Linked DNA regions of Homo sapiens. The protein of the gene in region 4 purifies or fractionates together with the protein of the main gene of each other region. This does not show direct contact. Each region holds a gene or a part of one and is shown on either strand. Other genes may lie near its edges.

Region 1 (6,175 bases), on a different chromosome or scaffold from region 4:
AGGAGGGACAGTCACAATTGAGTAGACTGAGAGGAGGCGTGAGGGGCTGGACCAGAGGGCCAGGAGGGAGCGAGGCGTGATGGGGTGAGGGCCCCCCTCCCAGCGCCTGGAGATGGGGAGGAGTGGAATAGGCTGTGGGTAGCAGCTGCTGCGAGTCTCCACCCCGACCAAAGCAGCTGCTCCTCCTGTGCCCAGGCCCAGCCCATGCTCTGTGGCCATGCACCTAGCAGGCACCTAGCGGGACAGTGGCGTCTGCTTCAGGGACATGAGCACCGAGCGCAGGCGGGACACATCTTTGCACTGCTTGCTGCTCTTGGGGTTGAAGTCACATAGCTGGGCCACCTTCTCCCACTCTGTGCCTGGGGTCTCCTCCTTGGATTCCTTCACGAAAGCCTCCTCGGATGCCCTGCGGGTGGAGATAGGACGGGCTTTTATAGCAGTCTGCTTTCCCCCAGCCTTGCCCTTGAGCAAGGCTGCTTTGCCCAGCCTACTCTGGGGCACTGTGTCCTCCCCAGCCTTGTGCCCCCCTGACTTCAGAGGAGGGCAGCCTTGGCGCAGGAGGAAGCCTAGCTTGGTCCTGCCTCAGGACCTTGGCACTTGCTATCACCTCTTCCTGGAACACGCTTCTCCCAGACCTGTTCCTGGCTTGCTGCTTCTTGTCATTCAGGTCTCAGTGCGGGCCTCACCTCCTCAGAAAGTCTTCCCAGCCTAGGCACCCTCTGTTCATTACTTCCCCATCGGGAGTTCCCAACCTGAGGTTCCTGACACCTAAAGACCCTTGGAGGTCCTAGGACGACCTAATGCAGGACCTTAGCTATTTCACCATTTCCAAAAACTTGGCAGAAGTAGGACACTGACTAACCATCTAACAGAAGCACCTAGTTCAGCATTGCCTGAATGTTCTGTGTGAGGATTCTCCAGAAAGACTGTGGTCAAATACCTATGGAAAACCCAGCTAAAGAGGATCTTTACAGCAAGACTTTCAAAGCCTTTCATGTGCTGTGTGCGTCGTGACCCTCCAAGGTGTGTATGTGATGGAATCCACCACATCCCAAGCGTCTTTCACCACAGAGCCCTTTGTAGCCCAGAACCACCACTGTCTCTGAGGAGCCACAGCCTGGGGCATGAATGCTCCACTGGAGTCTGCTTTTGGTTGGAATCAAGTTAGGATGAAAACTGGCGGTCCTTCATCAGAAGTTCTGGTTGACAGTCACAGAAGCCACTGACTAAGGGACAGTGGGGAAACAAGTAAATACAGTCTAGTGGACAAAATCTACACGTGGGACTCACTAACAGAAAGACAATAAGGGATTCTTAGGTGAGGAGAGCTGGGTCTATGTCCTGTTTGGCCAGCGAGGGTCGCTCACAAGTCCCTGGAAGCCCCCTCTCCATCTCAAGCAGGACCAGTTCTGCCGATGCCAGACATGACTGATGGCAGGAGCGCTCCATGGAAGAGCTGACCCCGGATCAGGTGACCTGGCCCCTCTCTAGGGATGCTGGCTGTATGCTCATTTCCTAGCCTGTAAAATGAGGATCATAGCTCTGCCCTACCAACTATTTCACTGGACTGAGAATTCAATGAGGTAGCAAGCAGGTCTGGAAAAAAGGAAAGTGCTGCGTGGAGCTGGGTGGCAAGTGGGGATGAGGGGAGCTATCCTCGGAGCTGTCCCTTCAGGGTCCAGAGGCTCCCCTCTGTCCTTGCAGCTCAAAGCGTCCATGGTCCAATGGCATCAGCATGACGACAGAGCCTGTCAGAAATGCAGACCCTTGGGCCTCCCCACCGTCCTGCTGAATCAGAATCAGGGTTTTCACGAGACCCCCTGGTAATTCATAGGCATGTGAAAGTTTGAGCCTGGGCGCAGTGGCTCACTCCTGTAATCCCAGCACTTTGGGAGGCAGAGGCGGGTGGATCACTTGAGGTCAGGAGTTCGAGACCTGCCTGGCCAACATGGTGAAACCCCATCTCTACTAAAAATACAAAAAATTAGCTGGGTGTGGCCAGGCGCGGTGGCTCATGCCTGTAATCCCAGCACTTTGGGAGGCCAAGGTGGGCGGATCACGAGGTCAGATGGAGAGCATCCTGGCTAACACGGTGAAACCCCGTCTCTACTAAAAAATACACAAAATTAGCCGGGCATGGTGGCGGGCACCTGTAGTCCCAGCTACTCAGGAGGCCGAGGCAGAAGAATTGCTTGAGCCCAGGAGGCGGAGGTTGCAGTGAGCTGAGATCATGCCACTGCACTCCAGCCTGGGTGACAGAGCAAGACTCCGTCTTAAAAAAAAAAAAAAGTTTGAGAAGCCCTGGTCTATACTCTCTCTTCAGGGCTCTCCTGGGTGCTCTCTGGGCCATTTCCTCAGGCTCAACAGAAGCATCGAGCCCCCTGTGGTATTCCACAGCACCCATGCCCATCTGACATCCCCATCCCTTGCTGGAAGCCTCCTGTGGCTCCCCACTGCCTTCTGGATCAAGTCTGAGCTCAGCCTTGGCACAACAGGCGCTTTGCAACCAGCCCCAAGCCAACCACCTCCCAGCCTCAGCTCCCACCCATCCCCACCATCCCCACCATCCCCACCATCCCAGCCTGTAGAGCTTCAGCCACTGCAGCCAGCTGGGCCTTTTCTCTCTGGATGCCTTGGCCCCAGCTGCTCCTCCCACCTTCTCTTCCCACCCTCCCTATCCAGCAAACTCCTTCTCACACTTTAAGGTCAGCTGAAGGTCTTGCATCTCTGAAGCCTGCCCAGGCTCCCCAGGCAGAGAGTGGCTTCCAGAGCTCACTGTGTCCTTCCACAAGGCCCTTATCATAACACACTCCAGACCATGAGCACGGTGAGGGGGGCGGCCTGTGGGTGTCTTACCAATCTGGCACAAGGCGAGTGCCAAAGAGTACTAAATGAGGGAGAGTGGAAGGAAGCAGACGAAGGCTCTGGTGTGCTCTGTGCCCTGTGAGAGGAGGCTTAGCCTCGACACATGACGGGCTGCCAGGGCACACCTAGAGTGAAGAACAGCAAGTACCTTCTCTTCAGCTCCACAATCCCCACCACCACCCTCCAGGATGTCTCTACCAACTAACTGACGTCGGCACGAGATATAACCTGTTTGCCAACCCTGGTCTTGATTACTCATCACACCAAGTAGACCCCAAACCTGAAACATGTGAGGGGGCCTGTGGTGGTCTGGGCAGGGGCTGATGGCCAAAGTCAGTGCACTGGGGCAGGAGGAAGAGATGGATGTCACAAAGGAGCAGCTCTTGTCCTTTACATGCCTCCAGCATCCCATGCTCAGTGTCTGTTTTGTTGAATAAAAGACCCCTTCAGCTGGGTGTGGTGGCTCATGCCTGTAATCCCAGCACTTTGGGAGGCCGAGGTGGGTGGATCACCTGAGGTCAGGAGTTCGAGACCAGCCTGGCCGACATGGTGAAACCCCGTCTCTACTAAAAATACAAAAGTTAGCCGGGCACGGTTGCATGTGCCTATAATCTCAGCTACTCGGGAGGCTGAGGCAGGAGAATCGCTTGAACCCAGGAGGTGGAGGTCGCAGTGAGCCGAGATCGCAGCACTGCACTCCATCCTGAGCAGCAAGAGCGAAACTCCATCTCAAAAAACAAAAAACCCTTCACCCCACACACCCACCAAGAGACATCACAGAGGGAGGGAGTTGGGGTGCTCTGCCATTTGCCCCTCCCACATGGGAATAAGTGGCAAGCACATTCCTTTCTCTGCCTTTATCCTGCAAGGCTCTGATTTAGCCAAGCAGCCTCCACTTCACTGGAGGGAGGGAGGTGGTTGCTGCCTGCACCCACCAGGGCATTTGCCTCCTGTTCTGACCATTGCTCCGAGCCCAGCCACACTCATTTATATCCCACAAGCAGGAAACTCAAGAAACTGTGGTGGCCATTCCCTCTCTAGCTCCCCCAACAGAGAAGCAAAACAGACACGTACACGTAGCCGATGATATCAGCATCTGGCTGCTGGTAGAATGCTTTGTCAGCGATCCTTGAGGGAAAGGTTGAGGGAAGGGGTTAGGTGGGGGAAGGCAGATGGCAAGACAGACAGGCAGGCAGAAGGTTAGAGAGAGAGAGAGAGACAGCATTAGTACCTCCAGTGGGAGAAATGTTAGGAAGCATAGTTCTGGAAGGCTCAGCAACGACCCACAGCCCCAAACAGGAGAATGGGGACCTTCACCCTGGCCCCAGCACCTTCTCTAAAATTCATCCCTGATCATGTTACTCCTGTTCAAACACCTTCAGTGGCTCCCCACTGCCCATGTCACTGCCCAACTCATCAGCCAAGGCCCTTACAGTGTGAGTCCACAGGTTCCTGCCTTCTCTCCCACCGCTCCCTGGCCCCCTGTTGCCTAATACATCACATTTTTTTCTTCGTACCCAGGTCTAGAATGCCCCCCTACCTCCTGCCCTTTTTTCCCTTTTTTCCTCCTAGTCATCTTCCAAAGCCCAAGTCCCAAGACACAGAGGTCTCTCCCTGACCTGTTTCCTTGCTTCCATGGCCTTCGTGCAGAGGGCCCTACTGTATTTGAGCTTAGTTGAACATGTGTGTTTTTCTCCTCTGCGCCCTTTGAGGACATAAGGCTGGGTCCTCCTTATCTCCATCTCCTCCGTGCCTACCCCAGAGCCTGGCATGCAGCAGTTCCCTAGACAGAAGGGTAGCTTCCCAGAACAGGCCTTTCCCTTCCTGGAAGACCTTGTACCGTGAAGGACAGAGCCTCAAAGGCAGGGAGCACTGGGCAGTGTTCAGTCATGTCCCCACAGCCCCTCTCATGTCCCCATAGCCCCTCTCATGTCCCCACAGCCCCTCTCATGTCCCCACAGCTCCCTCTCATGTCCCCACAGCTCCCTCTCATGTCCCCACAGCCCCTCTCATGTCCCCACAGCTCCCTCATGTCCCCACAGCCCGTCTCATGTCCCCACGGCCCCCTCATGTCCCCACAGCTCCCTCATGTCCCCACCCCTTCATGTCCCCATGGCCCCCTCATGTCCCCACGGCCCCCTCATGTCCCCACAGCCCCCCTCATGTCCCCATGGCCCCCTCATGTCCCTACAGCCCTCTCACCGGTTGTTGATCTTGTTCTTCTCTACTTGTTCACTCTGGCGCTGGTTCCACTCCTCCAGGTCCTTCTTGGCCTTCTCCCGCCATTCCTGTTCCGTGACCTTAGATGCAGCATCTAGGACCCCACAAGAGAATGAGTGGCTGCTTTCCAGCTGGGATGCACAGGCCCGGCCGCGCTCCTCCCCTGGCCCCTGCCAGGCAGCCACAGGGCCGCACCGGCCCAGTCCCACATTAAGGCATGCAGCATCCCATGCACTCCGAGGACTCCCCACACTCCACCCCACACACAGCCCACCCAGCCAACCCCGCCTCAGCCCCGCCCTCACCCAGCTCTTGCAGCCGTTTCCTCTGCTCCTCTCGCCACTTGCGGATGCTCTCAGGCTCCTGGGTCAGCCTGTCAGCCTGGGCAATGGCTGCGTAGCCATCAGCAGGACCGTTGGCCTCCTAGAACACAAACACGCAGCAGTCTATCCAGCCAGCACACCTGCCCCGCTGTCTCTGCTGCCCCTGCTGGGGACCCACTCATGTCTGGATAACTCAGCCTCAAACAACCTCATACCCACTGTCTCTGGTGACTACACCTATCTTTGCACTTGCTGTTCCCTCTGCCAGCAACACTCCGCCACCTGTGTGACTGCGGGCAAGTTACTCACCCTCTCTGTGCCTGATCATTGCCTCTGGCCCAGTTATAGGTTTTGATACCCCCAAAGCAGAAGACTCAAGAAAGCGTGTGCCAGCCACTTTCTTTGTCATAAAATGGGCTAAATAACAGTATGCACTCTGATGGGAGGACATAAGGATGAAATGAGTTAAAAATTATAAAGAATGTCGGGCGCAGTGGCTCACACCTGTAATCCCAACACTTTGGGAGGCCGAGGCGGCAAATCACCTGAGGTTGGGAGTTCAAGACCAGCCTGACCAACATGGAGAAATCCCGACTCTACTAAAAATACAAAAAATTAGCCAGGCGTGGTGGTGCATGCCTGTAATCCCAGCTACTCCGGAGGCTGAGGCAGGAGAATCACTTGAACCCGGGAGGCAGAGGTTGCAGTGAGCCGAGATCACACCATTGCACTCCAGCCTGGGCAACAAGAGCAAAACCCCGTCTCAA
Region 2 (6,175 bases), on a different chromosome or scaffold from region 4:
TTGAATCCAGCCTGGGTAACATAACAAGACCACGTCTCTGAAAAAATAAGACCAGGCATGGTGGCTCACACCTGTAATCCCAACACATTGAGAGGTCAAGGCAGGAGGACTGCTTGAGGTCAGGAGTTCAAGACCAGCTTGAGATATATAGTAAGACCCCCATCACCACAAAAAAAAAAATTGTTAAAAAGTAAAAAAAAAAAAAGGTAAAGATAATTAAAAAATTAATCTTTGGGTAATATATGAAATATAAAAATAAAAGGCACAAAAGGATTTATTTTATTTTATTTTTTGAGAGAGTTTCGCTCTTGTCATCCAGGCTGGAGCACAGTGGCGTGATCTCACTCACTGTAACCTCCACTTCCCAGATTCAAGTGATTCTCCTGCCTCAGTGTCCCAAGTAGCTGGGACTACAGGCACCTGCCACCATGCCCAGCTAATTTTTCTATTTTTAGTAGAGACAGGGTTTCACCATGTTGGCCAGGGTGGTTTTGAACTTCTAACCTCAGGTGATCCACCCACCTCGGCTTCCCAAAGTGCTGCGATTACAGGCGTGAAACACTGCACCAAGCAAAAAAAGATTTAAAATGAAAATTAAGTCTCTTTCCCACTATTCCCAGGCACTCAGTTCTTCACTCAGGAGGCAGCATTGTTAACAGTTTCTTATGAGTCTTTTCAGAAATAACCTGTGCATATACAAGCACATATGCATATATAATGGTCTTTAAAAAGCTAAATAGTGGAATACCAAGTACATAAAATAGTGCTGATAAATAGCAGGTACTCAATAAACATTTGTAGATGAATGAATAAATTATTCCAAATCTTGCTTTTTTACTCAATATATCTTAGATTTCTTTCCATAGCACTATGTGTAGAACTGCCTCTTTATTTTTCCACAATTGCATTCTATACCATTGTATGACTATATCATAATTTAATTGATTGATCTCATCTTGATAGAATCTTATTTTGTTTATAATCTTTTGTCTTAGGAATAATGTTGCAAGAAAAAAACATTCAACACTTCTTCAGGCATACAGTTAAGTGTATCCAAATGAGAAATTTCTAGATGAGAGCTTTCCAGGCAAAGATAATCTGTATTTTTAATTTTGATAAACACCATAAATTTGCTTTCCACAGAGGTTGCACCAACTTAAAATTTTTCCCATTAATACACGAATAACTATTTCCCTGTATCCTTATAAATACATTGTCAAAGTTGAAAAAGTTTCTTTTTTATTTTGAGATGGAGTTTCACTCTTGTTGCCCAGGCTGGAGTGCAATGGCGTGATCTTGGCTCACTGTAACCTCCACCTCCTTGGGTTCAAGCAATTCTCCTGCCTCAGCCTCCAAGAAACTGGGATTACAGGCATGTGCCACCATGCCAGGCTAATTTTGAGTTTTTAATAGCGACTACATTCGTCAGGCTGGTCTTGAACTCCTGAACTCAGGTGATCCACCTGCCTCGGCCTCCCAAAGTGCTGGATTACAAGCGTGAGCCACTGTGCCCGGTCGAAAAAATTTTATAATAAAATCTGGTAGGTTAAAAATAAAATCTCATTTTAGCTTTAACGTACATTTTCTTACTCTGAGTAAAGTTGAACATTTTTTTCTCACGTTAAAATATTTTTTTCTATGTGAACTTTATTTATGACTCTTGGCTATTTTAAAAATTGGGTTATTCATCTTACTTTTATTTATCTGTAGGAGCTTTACATTTATTGAAGAACTTCGACCTCTGTCTATTGTATGCATTAATATTTTTCTTTAGTTTGTAGTTTGGTTTTTGGTATTATAATTTTTATGGCATTTTATAAATTTACCAATTTTTTCTTCTGTGGTTTTTCTTTTTTTCTTTTTTTTTTGTAGACACAGAGTCTCTCTATATTGCCCAGGCTGGTCAGGAACTCCATGGCTCAAGTAATCGTCCCACCTAGGCCTCCAAAGTGACTGAGTATTTTTGGTCATACTTAGGCCTGTTAAACCAAAACTATACAAATTTTTCCTGCATTTTCTTTAAGAACTTTCATATATTCATATTTAGTATTTGACTCATTTGGAGTTTAATTTTCTCAGAAATAAGGTAGAAACCCAACCTGGGTGTTTTCTCAGTTTTCCCAGCATCATTAATCAGTTTTATCCCCACTTATATGAAATGCCACTTTTTTCACATACCAAATTCCTATATGAATTGAATCTATTCTGATTGCCTGTTTTAAGTTCCATCAATCAGTCTGTGTATCCATAAGCCTGTCATATATGTGATTATAGTAGCTATATAACATGCATATTATCTGATGGGGTAGTTCCTTCTTTCCCTTCCCAGAATTTTCTTAGCTTTTCATATAACTTTCCTGTTAAACTTCAGACTCTATTTGTATATTACCCCAAAACAAACAAATAATATCCTGATAGAATTTATTAGGGTCCTTTAAAATATACAGACTGGTAGAAGAGTTGCATCTTTCTAATATTTAATCTTCCCATCCAAAAATAAAGAATGCATTTTCACTTAAAAGCCTGCCTTCATATCCCTCAGTAATACTCACAAATTTCTTCAATTATGTTGTACATTCCTTCTAAAGTACATGCCAAGGTCAGGTGCGGTGGCTCAAGCCTGTATCCCAGCACTTTGGGAGGCTGAGGCAGGCAGATCACCTGAGGTCGGAAGTTCAAGACCAGCCTGACCAACATGGAGAAACCCTGTTAGCCACTAAAAATATAAAATTAGCCAGGTGTGGTGGCACATGCCTATAATCCCAACTACTCGGGAGGCTGAGGCAGGAGAATCGCTTGAACCTGAGAGGGAGGTTGCAGTGAGCCAAGATCACACCATTGCACTCTAGCCTGGGCAACAACAGTGAAAACTCTGTCTCAAAAAAAAAAAAACAAAAATAAAAATTAAAATTAAAAAAAAGGATATGCCTACTTATTTTTTCTTTTTTGTTGCTACTGTATATGAGGTATTTTCTTCCATCACTGTTTATAATAATTTTTAGTCATTCTGTTGGGTGTTTTAAACATACAATCAAATCATCTGTAAACAATGATATTTTACTTTTTTTTTTTTTTTTTTTCATGAGACAGGGTCTTACCCTGTCGCTCAGGCTGGAGTGCAGTGGCGCCATCTCAGCTCACTGTAGCCTTGACCTTCCAGGCTCAAGCGATCTTCCCACCTTTGCCTCTCGAGTAGCTGGGACTACAGGTGCATGCCACCGTAACCAAATAATTTTTTTTTTTATTTGTAGAGATGCGGTTTCACCATGTTGCCCAGACTGGTCTCAAACTCTTGAGCTCAAGCAATACACCTGCCTTAGCCTTCCAAAGTGCTAGGATTAACAACGGCCTACCTTTTCTTTTCCAATGATAAATATTTTTTTTCTCTTACTTAAGTGCATAGTTTGCATCCTTTTCCAGGTCCTGACATTAACAGGAATGCTTACGCTTTTTCCCTATTAAGTATCAAGTTGGCTTTTGAGTTGAGACATATTTTGTCATGTTATGTTAAGGAAATAACCATCTAATCCTACAATATTAAGAGTTTTAAAAAACTCAGACAAAACTTTGTATTTTCTTCTCAATGCCTGCTGATGTTTTAAGTATCATTAATTTGTACAAAAATAATTTTTATAAACACTATTAAGGGCTGGACACAGTGACTGATGCCTATAATCCCAGCACTTTAGGAGGCTGAGGCAGGAAGATCTCTCGAGGCCAGGAGTTCAAGACCAGGCTGAGCAACATAACGAGACCCAGTCTCTACAAAAAATTTAAAAATTAGCCAGCTGCAGTGGTGTTATGTGTGCAGTCCCAGCTACTCAGGAAGCTGAGGCAGGAGAATTGCTTGAGCCACTGCAAAAATATTAAGTAATCACTTAACTATTTAAATTAGTGCCCTTTTCAAATAAAAACAAAAACAAGAATGAAGATTTATCACTACTTCTTTATAAGGAATCTAATTCTTACCTAAAATATGGCCAATGGGACAGTGACATTTTCCTTCGGCAGTTAAGTCACTAGGGCAAGAAATGCAGTTCCAGCCATCTTCTGTAACACCTTTCTAAATTAAAAGAAAAAAAATGCTTTTCTCTTTTTTAATTAACTTTCTTCTTCTAATCATGTAAGTTCAAAATGCCATAAGAGTATGTAACTACAGTGAATATTCAAATAAATCATACATATATGAGCCACATAAAAATTCCCTGGAGAGATAATTCATGCTTATATTCCAAAATGAAGCTCTATATTATCACTATGTCCTGAAAACTATTAAAGGATTAACTCCGGATAATAGTTCTCTCTTCTTCAGGATCTTTAATTCAAATGGATGCCTCTTTCATAATTATTTGTCATTTCGTTTTTCCATTTACAAATATAAAACACAACACAACACAAAAAGATTGAATCAACGGTCAGTTAATAGGTTAATCTTACCTGTTCTAAAACTCTATTCTAATTTTTAAAAATTCAAATACCTAAAAAATTTAGTCCAGGCACAGTGGCTCACGTCTGTAATTCCAGCACTTTGGGAGGCCAAGGTGGGTGGATCACTTGAGGCCAAAGCTTGAGGCCAGCCTGGCCAATGTGGTGAAACCTCGTCTCTACTAAAAATACAAAAATTAGCTGGGCGTGGTGGTGTATGCCTATAATCCTACTTGGGAGGCTGAGGCACCAGAATGGCTTGAACCAGAAAGGTGGAGGTTGCAGTGAGCTGAGATCGTGCCACTGCACTCCAGCCTGAGCAACAGTAATACTCTCTTTCAAAAAAAAAAAAAATTCATTTATGATTCAAAATGGGTAAATTTTATGAAATATATAAATTATACACATAGTTGTTAAAATTGATTTATGAGAATATTTTCTTCTATCCATTTATGGCTTGTACTAGTAAAGGTTTTTTTTTTTTTGAGACAGAGTCTTTGCTCTGTTGCCAGGCTGGAGTGCAGTGGCACAATCTCGGCTCACTGCAAGCTCTGCCTCCCAGGTTCAAACAATTCTCCTGCCTCAGCCTCCCGAGTAGCTGGGACTACAGGCACGTGCCACCACGTCCAGCTAATTTTTGTATTTTTAGTAGAGATGGGGTTTCACCACATTTGCCAGGATGGTCTTGATCTCTTGACCTCGTGATCCACCTGCCTCAGCCTCCCAAAGTGCTGGGATTACAGGCGTGAGCCACCGCGCCCGGCCTAGTAAAGGTTTTTGATAAAGTATGACAGCATTCAAAATTGGGCTTATTATATCATATGGTTTAGGAAAAGCCTGGGGCAAAAAACACAATAATTACAAACACAGATGTAACCAAAGTTTATAAAGAACAAAAATAATGCCACAAATTATTTTAAATTTTGGTTGAAAAGACTGAATTTATCAAGAAATACTCCTATATTTGGCAATACATTTATACAGGACAATTTATTTATTTATTTATTTATTTATTTATTTATTTATTTATATTTTATTTATTTTTTTGAGACAGAGTCTCGCTCTGTCACCCAGGCTGGAGTGCAATGGTGCAATCTTGGCTTACTGCAACCTCTGCCTCCTGAGTTCAAGCGATTCTCTTGCCTCAGCCTCCCAAGCAGCTGGGACTACAGGCACGCGCCACCACAGCCAGCTCATTTTTGTATTTTTAGTAGAGATGGGGTTTCACCATATTGGCCAGGCTGGTCTCAAACTCCTGAGCTCATGATCCACCAGGCTCAGCCTCCCAAACTGCTGGGATTACAGGCATGAGCCACTGTGCCTGGCCTATACAGGACAATTTAAAAATTACAATAACTTAAACAATGTCACTGAAAAAGAAATCTGCTGCGAGACCACTTTTTATTAGCAGCTTTTTATCATGGGTAATTCAGCTAGGATCAATATTTGCAAAGATATAAAATAAATGGTAATCTATTATAATCTATTATAAAGATATAAAATAAATGGTAATATAAAAAGTGGTAATCAGACTTACAAGTAATACAGATAGCTATAAATTGGGACAATTGATAACTTCACATTAAATTCCCAGAATTAATATTTTTTATATGACAATGAGAAGAAACATTACTGTAAATGTCACAACTGTTACACAGACTTTTAATTATCCAACATGATTGAAAAATATATTTATGTTGAGAATTATATATAGTAACTATTTACTAATTTTTTTTAAATTACGATACAA
Region 3 (6,175 bases), on a different chromosome or scaffold from region 4:
TAATGGAGCTGAAAAATTCCTATTGCCCCCGAAAACCTTCCAGCAGGACAAGATGTGAAGGTAGAAGACAGTGATATTGATAATCCTGACTCAGTGTAGTCCTAAACTAATATGTGTGCGTCTCAGTTTTTAAAAAAAGAGTTTAAAAAGTAAAAAAAAAAATTAAATAGAAAAAAGCTTATAAACTAAGGATATAAAGAAAGAAAATATTTTTGTATAGCTCTACAATGTGTTTATATTTTAAGTTTTGTTATTATGAAGAGTCAAAAAGTAAAAAAAGCCAGGCATGGTGGCAGGCGCCTGTAGTCCCAGCTACTCGGGAGGCTGAGGCAGGGGAATCGCTTGAACTGGGAGGCAGAGGCTGCAGTGAGCCAAGATCACGCCACTGCACTCCAGCCTGGCAACAGAGCAAGACTCCATCTCAAAACAACAACAACAACAACAACAAAAAACTTTAAAAAAAATTAGAAAGTTTATGAAGCAAAAAATTACAGTGAGCTAAGGTTAATTTATTATTGAAGAAAGGAAATAAAAAATAAATTTAGTGTACAGTAATGTTCTAGGCCTTTCCATTCACTCACTACTCATTCACTCACTGACTCACCCAGAGTAATTTCCAGTTTTGTAAGCTCCATTCATGGTAAGGACCCTACTACCATTTTTTATCTTCCATACTATATTTTTACTATACCTTTTCTATGTTTAGATACAGAAAGCCTTACAATTGTGTTACAGTAGCCTACAGTATTCAGTACAGTAACATGCTGGACAGGCATGTAGCCTAGGAGCAATAGGCTGTTTCATCTAGCCTGGGTGTGTACTAGGCTGTACCACCTAGGTTTGTGTAAGTACACTCTGTGATGTTCACGCAAAGATGAAATTGCCTAATGCCACATTTCTGAGAGCATATCCCCATCATTAAGTGATGCATGACTGTATTTATGTCCCTGAAGTGGTCTGTTGACCGTGACAAATAGGTAAAATGTATGCTTTGTTTTTTTCCCAGTTTTAAATTAATTAAAGTTAAAAGAACATTGTATTGGCAGAGTTCTTTAAATAAAAATAAGTAAAATAAGTTAAAATATAGTATATATACAATGATATTACTCAATCTAAACATTTCAATGCTGATGACTATAGTTTCAAACTCATAAATGAATGTTTCATATTGGAAAATTAATTATGGCCTGTATGTTAGATGTTTGGGAACTCTAAAGAAAGATGCTGATAGACATTTGAGAGTGATTTACAAAAATTATTTTCTAATAACTGAAACTTTTCTTCAAATTAGCTTAAACTAAAGCCCAACATAGTCAGACAATGTTAGGTTGGTGCAAGAGTAGTTGCAGTTTTTGCCATTACTTTCAATGGCAAAAACTGCAACTACTTTTGCGCCAACTTAAATCCATTGCTGTTCTGAGTTATGTGGGGTGGACTGAGTGTGGACCCAGCACTTGTCCTATTCAGCCAGGACCTCTGGGTTCACTTGGGGCTCTAGATAGCAGAATTTGTAAAGCCGGAATAGATAAGAGACTCACCACTATTTGATTACATTCTTGGATATGATTAGATATCGTATTAAGAATTTTGGTCCAAGAGAGTTGGAAACAATGATTAATTTAGATTTAGAGAACATGGAAAAATTTAATTCATAGCCTTTGCTTTTTCAGATGTGCCTAAATGAACAGACCTCTTGCCTTTTAATGCCTGGAAAAACCTCAGAGTATGTTGAAACCCTTTTTGTTTGTTTGTTTTTTAGAGATGAGGTCTCACTGTTGCCCAGGCTGGTCTCAAACTCCTGGGCTCAAGTGATCCACCGGCCTTGGCCTCCCAAAGTGCTGGGATTATAGGAGTGAACCACCGCACCCAGCCTTGAAAACCTTTTTTAAATTTTTATTTTTTTTTTAGAGACAGGGTCTCGCTGTGTCATCCAGGCTGAGGTACAGTGGGGTGATCATACCACACTGTAGCCTCTGACTCTTGGGCTCACACAATCCTCCTGCCTCACTCAGCCTCTCAAGTAGCTAAAATTACAGGTGTGTGTTACCACGCCTGGCTAATTTTTTGGGTAGACAGGGTCTTGCTTTATTGTCCATGCTGGTCTCAAGTTCCTGGCCTCAAGTGATCCTCCCACCTTTGCCTCCCAAGGTGCTGGAATTCCAGGGAAAACCTTTTGAAGAGAAAGCTGGGCTCATTTGTCAGATAAAATTTTTAATCCCCTATGTATTTACTGCCGCTTCTAAAGCTGAATTAGAAAATCCACAATGCTGTTTGGAACTATGCCTTTTCCAGCTGTCTGTAGTGTTCCATCGTGTACATAAAGCATATTGAGTTCTTTTTCTCACAAGTCATATTAGTTTTTTGCTATTAATGTCTATGTTGATTCCTGTCTATACTTGTTATACAACTTCTCAAAAATGACTCCTTGGTTCATATTAAATAGTTATCAGAAAGCAGATGTTGTTTCTAGTAGGAAAGCCTGCATACTGTTTAATTGCAAAGATGTCACAGTTTATGTTTCTCTGAATTGTTTTTAGAATTTGCTGGTGACCGGGGCGGTTGACTGTAGTTTGAGAGGCTGGGACTTAAGGAATGTACGACAACCAGTGTTTGAACTTCTTGGTCATACCTATGCTATTAGGAGGGTGAAAGTAAGTTTTCATCTTTTCTTTTATATGTAGAATAAAATTATATAAATATAATCAATGAAGTGTATATTAAAAAGTGTTCTGGGTTTAGGGATTGGAGTTACTAATTCTTTTTTATATGTGTTTTTGTTACCCAATTAATTAGTAGTGAAAGCTAAAATTAGGCAAAAATATTTGAATAATGATTGAATGAATTTGGGCAATGTAGACATTCAATACTTAAGGTTAAATAAAAATCTTTTTCTCATTCTTTCACCTCCAATCTGTTTTTCCTTTAATATATTTTTTTAACTATAGTAATTCACTTTTAGTATTATGTTCTTTATAAGTTTCTAATTAGCGAGAGTCTCTACTTTGTTGAAACAGATGTAAAGAGATGGTTAATTCTTTCTTTTTCCTAACATGATAACATACATGACTGTTCACAGATGTTTGGGATATAGAAAGTTTTCTACTCTGTGAACAGCAGAGGATGAGGTAAATTTTTAATGATGGTCTCAGTAAATTTATCTGGGTTATAAGATGACTTAGGTTGGTTTCCTGGCTTTTATATTTAGGCAGGTTCTGCTAAATGACTGTGGAAAACATCTTATTAAGTGACATCTCCCAATTTCATCCTTTTGTTTTTTTACGTTAAGGATAAAAAAGTACCTTATTGATTATTTTAATAAGGTAATTATGTTATTCCTACTATTTAAAAAATTCTAAATTTTTTTTTCTTTTTTTTTGAGATGGAGTCTTGCCCTGTCACCCAGACACGATCTCAGCTCACTGCAACCTCTGCCTTCTGGGTTCAAGCTGTTCTCCTGCCTCAGCCTACTGAGTAGCTGGGACTACAGGTGTGCACCACCATGCCCGGCTAATTTTTTTGTATTTTTAGTGGAGACAGGGTTTCACAGTGTTGGCCAGGCTGGTCTTGAACTCCTGACCTCAAGTGATCTGCCTGCCTTAGCCTTCCACAGTGCTGGGATTACAGGCTGAGTCACTGTGCCTGGCCAAAAATTCTAAATTTTTAGTTAAGTTAATATTTTAAGTTTCTCTGGCTGCAATGCAACATAGGAGACACAGTGCTCTGTTTTATTTTTTAATAAATTTGTTTAATTGGACAAGTTTTAGCAGTTGAAAAATATGCTCTATGTATATTTTAGAGTGATTATGAGAATGAAATAAGGTAATGTAGTGAAAGTACTTTGCAAACTAAGTGCTGGTCAAATGTAGTTATATATGTGTATTTAACTATTAAAGTGCGATAAGACAAACACTGAAGAAATGTAATTGCAAAGGTCAACTTATTAAGTACATTATTACTCATCTAGAAGACGTTACTTGTCTTTAAACTTGCTTTTTACCCTTGATATAATTTTCCATTAGCTGTAATATACAAATAACGTAAAAATAACTTAAGGGTGTTTTTATTTAACATTTAAATGTTTATTTTGATAACGTGATTATAGCAATCATATATTTGTAAAATTGGTAAATTATATAATTATATATTTGTACTCTTATATACTTAAATCCCTTATATTTGTAAGAATCATTTTTGTTTATTACTTTGTTTGCTTTTGCTTTTTTTGAGCCAGAGTCTCTCTCTGTCGCCGGGGCTGGAGTGCAGTGGCATGATCTCGGCTCACTGCAACCTCCACCTTCTGGGTTAAAGCAATTCACCTGCTTCAGCTTCCCCAGAAGCTGAGATTATAGGCATATGTGCCACCATGCCCATCTAACTTTTGTATTTTTAGTACAGGCGGGGTTTCACCATGTTGGCCAGGCTGGTCTCGAGCTCCTGACCTGAGGTGATCTGCCCTCCTGAGCCTCCCAAGGTGCTGGGATTACAGGTGTGAGCTGCTGCATCTGGCCTGTAAGAATCATTTTTGGATAGCCAATATGAAATTGTATTTAATTTTTCCAGAATAGCAACATTTTGGGAATATTTTATTCTAAATAAGTTCTAAAAAGCTTGAGGGATAATTTTCTTTGGAGAATGTAAAAATATTTTTCCTGAAGATGGATACTTATAAGGCCAGAAGATTTTTGCCTCAAATTATAGCATATATGCTTTGAAAAAGCATAATTTTAAGTGACAGCTCTGACTCAACTTAAATTTATTATAATGTTTATGGAATGATCATAGAAAGCAGTGTTATAATCACAGCTGACTTCAAAAAGGGTTTTTTTTTTCTTTTTTTTTTTGTAGTTTTCACCATTTCATGCTTCTGTGCTGGCCTCTTGCTCGTATGATTTTACTGTAAGGTACAGTGGTTTTTAATACATTTCATTGTGAAATACCAGGTAACATTTGCATCTTTGCAACTTTTATAAGAGATAATATGATTACTCTTACTAACATGAAAATAATCTGAGATGGGTACATTTAAATATTTACTAGGATTAATATTATATTTTTCCTGTTTTCGTGATCCAGTCACATATATGAGTAAATTTTTTCTCTTCAAATATTAGCCTGGCTATTCTGTTTAAAAGCCATCTTTTCTAATAGATGTTCCTATGGTAACACTTTCCTACACTATAGATGGCATAGCCAATATATTCTAAATTTAGATATAGAAATTTGGAAATTGCATTTCTTCAGGTCTAATTATATGAGTCGTAAGGCTAAGATTGCTTAGATGAAAAAACAATGAACATGAGTGTATGATTTTTTGTGAATGTAGATATATGAACATGTATGTGTATATATGTGCATGGATATCTAGATAAGAGTGTGTGTGGGTGTGGGTCTCTATTTATACTTCCAGTTACAGTTCCATACCACAGAGGATTTATTTTCCCTTTCCAAATTTGTAACTCTTGACTTCCATTTTATTCACAATATATTTTCTTATGTGTTAAACCCTGTAATGCTTAGAAAGTAGTTCAGAATTGCAAAGCCATACCTTTGAAAAAAACAATCTTACTAATTAGAGCTCAGCACTTGCTTAGAGTTTTTTTTGTCTTTAGTTTGAATACTATATTCAGAAGTTACTTAGGTTAATTCTCCTCTTCTCTGTTAGAGTGTGGTTATGTTATTCACTTGAAACATGGTTTGATTCCTTTGTTTCTGTTTGTATTCAATTTTAGGGTTTTCCTCCCATCCTTGTTGATTTTGTCTAGGCAAAACATTGACATGGTTTCAAAAGTCAAGATGTACATAAAGATATATTCAGAAAGGTTTCCAGGATTTTCACTAAAATATATCCTGGAAATCATTCTGTATCAAAGAGATCATTCTCATTCTGCATAATACACCATTGTGTGGATGTGCTATAGTTTATTTGGCTACCCTCCTATCTATGGACATTTAGCTTGTTTTCAATGTTTTGTAAATAAACAGTGCCACAGTGAATGATAGCTTTGTGTTACTAGAGAATTAATGTCTGGTATTCCTAGAAGTGGGATTGCTGAGTTAAAAGGTAAACATATGTAGTTTTGTTAGATATTACCAAATTCCCATCCATAAGGAATATGCCAATTTTGATACTCAGTAGCAATGTTTGAGAGTACCTGTTTCTCTGCCTTCTAAAGAT
Region 4 (6,175 bases):
TTACCTACAACAGGTCCATTTTCTTTTCTAGATGCTCGAGGTTTTGAAATAGTTTTGTTCATGATCTGTAATATCTCCTTTTTTGCCACTAGAAGAGAAAAACACAAAAATTATAACTACATAAAACAAATATGATCTGAAATACTGTACTCTTAGTTTTCACGGTATACAATCTAAACCCTGTAGCTTAATAATTGAAGCTTTCCACATCCCTATTACCTTGAAAATTCACTCATATTCTCTTCTCCAAAAATCCCATCTTAAATAGAGTTGTTTAATTTGTAAAAATTGAAATTTCACTGGTAACCCACTTTGGCGTGTATTCATGTGTCCCAAAAACTTAGTTGTGCTTCTTCTTTTTTTAAAATAGATATGGGATCTCACTACGTTGCCCAGGCTGGTCTTGAACTCCTGGGGCTCAAGCAATCTTCCTGCCTTGGCCTCCCAAAGTGCTAGGATGAGCCACCATGCCATGCCTGGCTACTTAGTACTTCTTTTTTTTTGAGACATTTTCCCTCTGTCACCCAGGCTGGCGCGCAATGGCATGATCTCGGCTCACTGTAACCTCTGCCTCCTGGGCTCAAGCGATTCTCTTGTCTCAGCCTCCTGAGTAGCTGGGATTACAGGTATGCACCACCATGCCCGGCTAATTTTTGTACTTTTAGTAGAGACAGGGTTTCACCATGTTGGCCAGGCTGGTCTCGAACTCCTGACCTGAAGTGATCTGCCTGCCTCGGCCTCTCAAAGTGCTGGGATTACAGACATGAGCCACCACACCTGGCCAGTACTTCTTGATCTAAGTTATATGAAATTCCACTTTTTAAAGCAATATTTTATAATAAGCCTAATGAGAACTATAGTTCCCATTAGCAAAGTGGAAAAGAATGAAGGGAGAATCAAGCACACTAGCTCACCTGAAGCTTGTTGAATAGCCTCCATCACAATTTTTATTGGTATTCCAGGTAATTTAATATCAGCCTAATATGGAAAAGTCAAACAATTATATAAATATTGACTCATGGCATTATTTAAATGTTACAAAAATGAAACAAAATGGGTTTTAAAAATACCTGTAATGCAGTTATTCCTTTATTAGTGCCAGCTATTTTGAAGTCCATGTCACCATTGTAATCTTCAATTCCCTTCAGGAATTTAAAAAGTTATGACATAGTTTTAAACAAAAACAAAAGTCAACATATTCACTGTAGAAACATTTCAAAAAACAGCTTTAGAAGTAAACCATATCCTAAGTCCAAACACAAAGCAATGTTTTCTACATTAACTACCACTTCCAATTTGTGACTTTTTAAGCTACAATTATTTTCACCAGAAACATCATTTTATTTTTAGATCATTCCTTTCCCTCATAAATGCCTGAGAATGAATTTATGCTCATCCTAAAGTGAGTCATTATGAATACTTACACTGTGTAAGTATTACTGCAATACTTAAGGGTAAGTATTACTATTTTTTTAAAGTAATCATTTTATTTTATTTTATTTTACTTATTTTGAGACACAGTCTTGCTCTGTTGCCCAGGATGGAGTGCAGTGGCACGATCTTGGCTCACTGCAACCTCTGCCTCCCGGGTTCAAGCAATTCTGCCTCAGCCTGCCAAGTAGATGGGATTACAGGTGTGTGCCACCATGCCCAGGCTAATTTTTGTATTTTTAGTAGAGATGGAGTTTTGCCACATTAGCCAGACTGGTCTGGAACTCCTGACTTCCCAAAGTGCTGGGATTACAGGCATGAGTCACTGTGCCTGGCCTATTACTATTAATATAATATCTATTTTAAATTCATATCCTATAAGATACAAGGTGAACATGCAGAGGAGGAAGGGAAGAACAAGTACCTGTTCTTCAAATACTAGCATTCTTCTAAGCATACGCTAGGTGCAAAGTACATATAGTCTTCACCATTATTTGTTTTTATCTTTTAATTTTTATTTATTTATTTTTAGTCTTCATTATTAAATATTTGAAACCGAGAATATACTTGCCAAAATATCTGTCAGCAAACGATAATCTTCTATTTCACCCTTCTCAGGATCGGTTTTGGTGACCAATCCTATTGCTACGCCTGCAACAGCAGATGAAATTGGAACCCCTATAATTGGGAAAAAGAACAACTGTGGGTAATGTGTACATGAGCCTAAAACAAATATTTATCTATCAATTTTTTTTTTTTTTTGAGAGGGAGTCTCGGTCTGTTGCCCAGACTGGAGTGCAGTGGCATGATCTTGGCTCACTGTAGCCTCTGCTTCCTGGGTTCAAGCAATCCTCCCACCTCAGCCTCCCCTATAGCTGGGATTATAGGCACCCGCCAACACGCCTAGCTAATTTGCTTGTATTTTTAGTGGAGATGGGGTTTCAACCATGTTGGCCCTGTTGGTCTTGAACTCCTGACCTCAGGTGATCTGCCAGCCTCAGCCTCCCAAAGCGCTGGGATTACAAGCGTGAGCCACCGCGCCCAGCAGACATTTACTTTTAATGTAAGTGGATATTGTTGCCTAAATTGACAATCACCGAAGCTGAGTTGGAAGTCTTAAGAGGTCATCTGACTACTTCGTTTGTTTTTGAACATATAATAAAGTTCCCTAAAACAATGTAAACAAGTACTATATCCAGCAAAAACTTCTCTAACAATAGCAAACTTTATAACTTTTAAATTATCCGTTGGTTTGCTTTTTTGCTTCAGGTGTCTTATTTTCTTTTTGTTGGAAAGTAAGCATCTATTTGGTAAATTCTTCCAGCCTGAACTCCTCAGTTTACCTCCCCATGGCAGCTAACATTAGTGTATCCTCCTAGAAAATTTCTGTGCACAAGTATAAATGTAAATATAATCTTTTGTTTTCTTTACTCGTGGCGGCAGACTGTATGCATTTACTGTTCTGCACCTTGCCTTTTTCACTTAATAACATGTCTTGGATATTGACACATACCACCACACAAAGCTCTACTTTATTCCTTTGAATAGTTTTAGTACTCCCTGTATGTTTTACAAGTCACACACAGAAGTGCGATTGCTGAGTCAAAAGGTATGTGCATTTACGTTTGTTAGACTGTCAAACTGCCTTCTAAAGACATAGCATTTTAAACTTTTACCAGTGGTGTAAGAAGGTATATGCTACTCTATATTCTTATTAATTCTTGTCAAATCTTTTGATTTTTCTCAATTTAAAGTGTAAAAAATGGTTATTTTAAATCTGACTTGTTTTTTATGACTGAGGTTGAAAACTATTTCATGTTCATAAACCTATTTATATGTCTTATTTTGAGAACTCCCTGTTCATGGCCTTCAACACTTTTCTACTTGGTTGGCAGTCTTTTTATTACTGATTTTCTTTCAATATGGACAGAGCTTTATTAAAATGTAAAGATAAAATATTATGTTTAATAACATATAAATAAAATATTTTATTTCCTAGTTCGTTGACTTTGCTTATGGTCATTAGTTTTCTGTGTAGGATTTTTAGTTTACGTAATCATGGTTTCTGGGTTTTGCTTAGCAGAGCTTTTCTTCTCCAAGATTTTGATAAAACCTACCATCTTTCATTTGTTTAAAAATGTTTAAGTTTTGATCACTTGGAATTTACTTTGGTATAAAGGAGTGTGGATCTCATTTCATTTTCTCTAAGCAACCTCATCTATACTTACGATTTTAACCACCATCTATAATGTTGATGACTTAAAAATCTATCCCTCCTGTCCAGCTATCTGTGCCAAACCCTGGACCTGTATTAGTAAACTCCCTGTCAGACATCTCCAGCTAAATGTCCCCAAAGCACCTTAAATATATATTCAAAATTGAGCCAGGCCCAGTGGCTCATGCTTGTAATCCCAACGCTTTGGCAGGCCAAGATGGGAGGATCACTTGAACTCAGGAATTTGAGACCAGCCTGGGCAATATATTGAGACCTCATCTCTATAAATAATAATAATGATGATGATGAAAGAAATACATATATGTTCAAAATTGAATCACTGTCAAAAAATCCTTTTCCTCCTGCATTCTTTGGTTGAAAGCAACTAAGACACTCATGCCAGAATCAACATTTCTTTCCTCATTTCCTATATCCCATCAAGTCACAAAGATCTGTTTATTTTTTTAGAAAGCTGTCCTTTACCCTAAATATTAAAATACCTATTGTAACTTTTTAGTCTGAGTCCATATCATTTCTTGCCCTGGCAACAATCTCCCTGTCTGGCTTCCCAGATTTTACTTTCTCTCTTTGCTTCTTAGTCTCTCCCATCTCATTCCGCAGGGCTATTCATCACTTAAGCTGGGAAAAACTGTTTGGAAAAAACAAAAGCAGATTCAAATCATGCCACTGTTTTCCATAAAATCCTTCAAGTTCCCCATTGCCTACTTTCAGGAAATTTTTGTACATATTCTGTGGTCAAATAAATTTGGAAAAATATTACATGTCCTATTCCTAGAGAGTCAGTATTCGGATTAGCTTATTAAAGTCTATTTAATCCATATTAAATAAACCTGCTTAACCCTGCTGAAACTTAACTTTAGAACAGAATAAACTTTTTCATGGTATACAATAATCAATGTCCTGTGGAACACTATTCCATGGAATACTGAATTGGAAAAATGCTGGCTTTAAGTCCAAACTCCTTAGCGTAACAATAACCTTCAGATTGTACAATGTGTGGCTTTCTTGAGGCACTGCCTCTCGAGTCCCTACCTCAAACTCCACTTCAAATAGGAGATTTTATGTTGGGGAAAGAAGGATTGGTAAAGAATTCTTACTTAAAAAAAATCCTGCCCTCTCTCCCTCTCTCCACCTCTACCTCTACCTCTACCTCTACCTCTACCCACGGTCTCCCTCTCCCTCTCTCCATGGTTTCCCTCTGATGCCGAGCTGAAGCTGGACGGTACTGCTGCCTGATTCTCCTGCCTCAGCCTGCCGACTGCCTGCGATTGCAGGCGCGCGCCGCCACGCCTGACTGGTTTTCGTATTTTTTTGGTGGAGACGGGGTTTCGCTGTGTTGGCTGGGCTGGTCTCCAGCTCCTAACTGCGAGTGATCCGCTAGCCTCGGCATCCTGAGGTGCCGGGATTGCAGACGGAGTCTCGTTCACTCCATGCTCAATGGTGCCCAGGCTGGAGTGCAGTGGCGTGATCTCAGCTCGCTACAACCTTCACCTCCCAGCAGCCTGCCTTGGCCTCCCAAAGTGCCGAGATTGCAGCCTCTGCCCGGCCGCCACCCCGTCTAGGAAGTGAGGAGCGCCTCTTCCCGGCCGCCATCCCATCTGGGAAGTGAGGAGCGTCTCTGCCCGGCCGCCCATCGTCTGAGATGTGGGGAGCACCTCTGCCCTGCCGCCCCGTCCGGGATGTGAGGAGCGTCTCTGCCCGGCCGCCCCGTCTGAGAAGTGAGGAGACCCTCCGCCCGGCAACCGCCCAGTCTGAGAAGTGAGGAGCCCCTCCGCCCGGCAGCCGCGCCGTCTGAGAAGTGAGAAGCCCCTCCGCCCAGCAGCCACCCCGTCTGGGAAGTGAGGAGCGTCTCTGCCCGGCAGCCACCTCGTCCGGCAGGGAGGTGGGGGGGTCAGCCCCCCGCCCGGCCAGCCGCCCCGTCCGGGAGGGAGGTGGGGGGATCAGCCCCCCGCCCGGCCAGCCGCCCCGTCCGGGAGGTGAGGGGCGCCTCTGCCCGGCCGCCCCTACTGGGAAGTGAGGAGCCCCTCTGCCTGGCCGGCCGCCCCGTCCAGGAGGGAGGTGGGGGGGTCAGCCCCCCCGCCCAGCCAGCCGCCCCGTCCGGGAGGTGAGGGGCGCCTCTGCCCGGCCGCCCCTACTGGGAAGTGAGGAGCCCCTCTGCCCGGCCAGCCGCCCCGTCTGGGAGGTGAGGGGCGCCTCTGCCCGGCCGCCCCTACTGGGAAGTGAGGAGCCCCTCTGCCCGGCCACCACCCCGTCTGGGAGGTGTGCCCAACAGCTCATTGAGAACGGGCCATGATGACAATGGCGGTTTTGTGGAATAGAAAGGGGGGAAAGGTGGGGAAAAGATTGAGAAATCGGATGGTTGCCGTGTCTGTGTAGAAAGAGGTAGACGTGGGAGACTTTTCATTTTGTTCTGTACTAAGAAAAATTCTTCTGCCTTGGGATCCTGTTGATCTGTGACCTTACCCCCAACCCTGTGCTCTCTGAAACATGTGCTGTGTCCACTCAGGG

What was found.
Region 1: the proteins of PNPT1 (region 4) and CLTB fractionate together in Homo sapiens (co-fractionation; one large-scale study listed by BioGRID). This does not show direct contact.
Region 2: the proteins of PNPT1 (region 4) and TMEM67 fractionate together in Homo sapiens (co-fractionation; one large-scale study listed by BioGRID). This does not show direct contact.
Region 3: the proteins of PNPT1 (region 4) and PEX7 purify together in Homo sapiens (co-immunoprecipitation; one large-scale study listed by IntAct). This does not show direct contact.

Annotation. Positions count from the first base shown.
Region 1 is NC_000005.10:176,392,540-176,398,714, forward strand, and holds part of CLTB (clathrin light chain B), read right to left. Parts: intron 5,509-6,175; coding exon 5,391-5,508; intron 5,180-5,390; coding exon 5,068-5,179; intron 3,994-5,067; coding exon 3,940-3,993; intron 407-3,939; coding exon 235-406; 3' UTR 1-234. UniProt on the Homo sapiens protein: Clathrin is the major protein of the polyhedral coat of coated pits and vesicles.
Region 2 is NC_000008.11:93,756,371-93,762,545, reverse strand, and holds part of TMEM67 (meckelin isoform 1 precursor), read right to left. Parts: intron 4,064-6,175; coding exon 3,970-4,063; intron 2,687-3,969; coding exon of another isoform or gene 2,553-2,686; intron 1-2,552. UniProt on the Homo sapiens protein: Required for ciliary structure and function. Part of the tectonic-like complex which is required for tissue-specific ciliogenesis and may regulate ciliary membrane composition.
Region 3 is NC_000006.12:136,867,353-136,873,527, forward strand, and holds part of PEX7 (peroxisomal biogenesis factor 7), read left to right. Parts: intron 1-2,537; coding exon 2,538-2,651; intron 2,652-4,845; coding exon 4,846-4,901; intron 4,902-6,175. UniProt on the Homo sapiens protein: Receptor required for the peroxisomal import of proteins containing a C-terminal PTS2-type peroxisomal targeting signal. Specifically binds to cargo proteins containing a PTS2 peroxisomal targeting signal in the cytosol.
Region 4 is NC_000002.12:55,645,345-55,651,519, forward strand, and holds part of PNPT1 (polyribonucleotide nucleotidyltransferase 1, mitochondrial precursor), read right to left. Parts: intron 2,110-6,175; coding exon 2,003-2,109; exon of another isoform or gene 1,929-2,002; intron 1,143-1,928; coding exon 1,071-1,142; intron 979-1,070; coding exon 915-978; intron 89-914; coding exon 5-88; intron 1-4. UniProt on the Homo sapiens protein: RNA-binding protein implicated in numerous RNA metabolic processes. Catalyzes the phosphorolysis of single-stranded polyribonucleotides processively in the 3'-to-5' direction. Mitochondrial intermembrane factor with RNA-processing exoribonulease activity.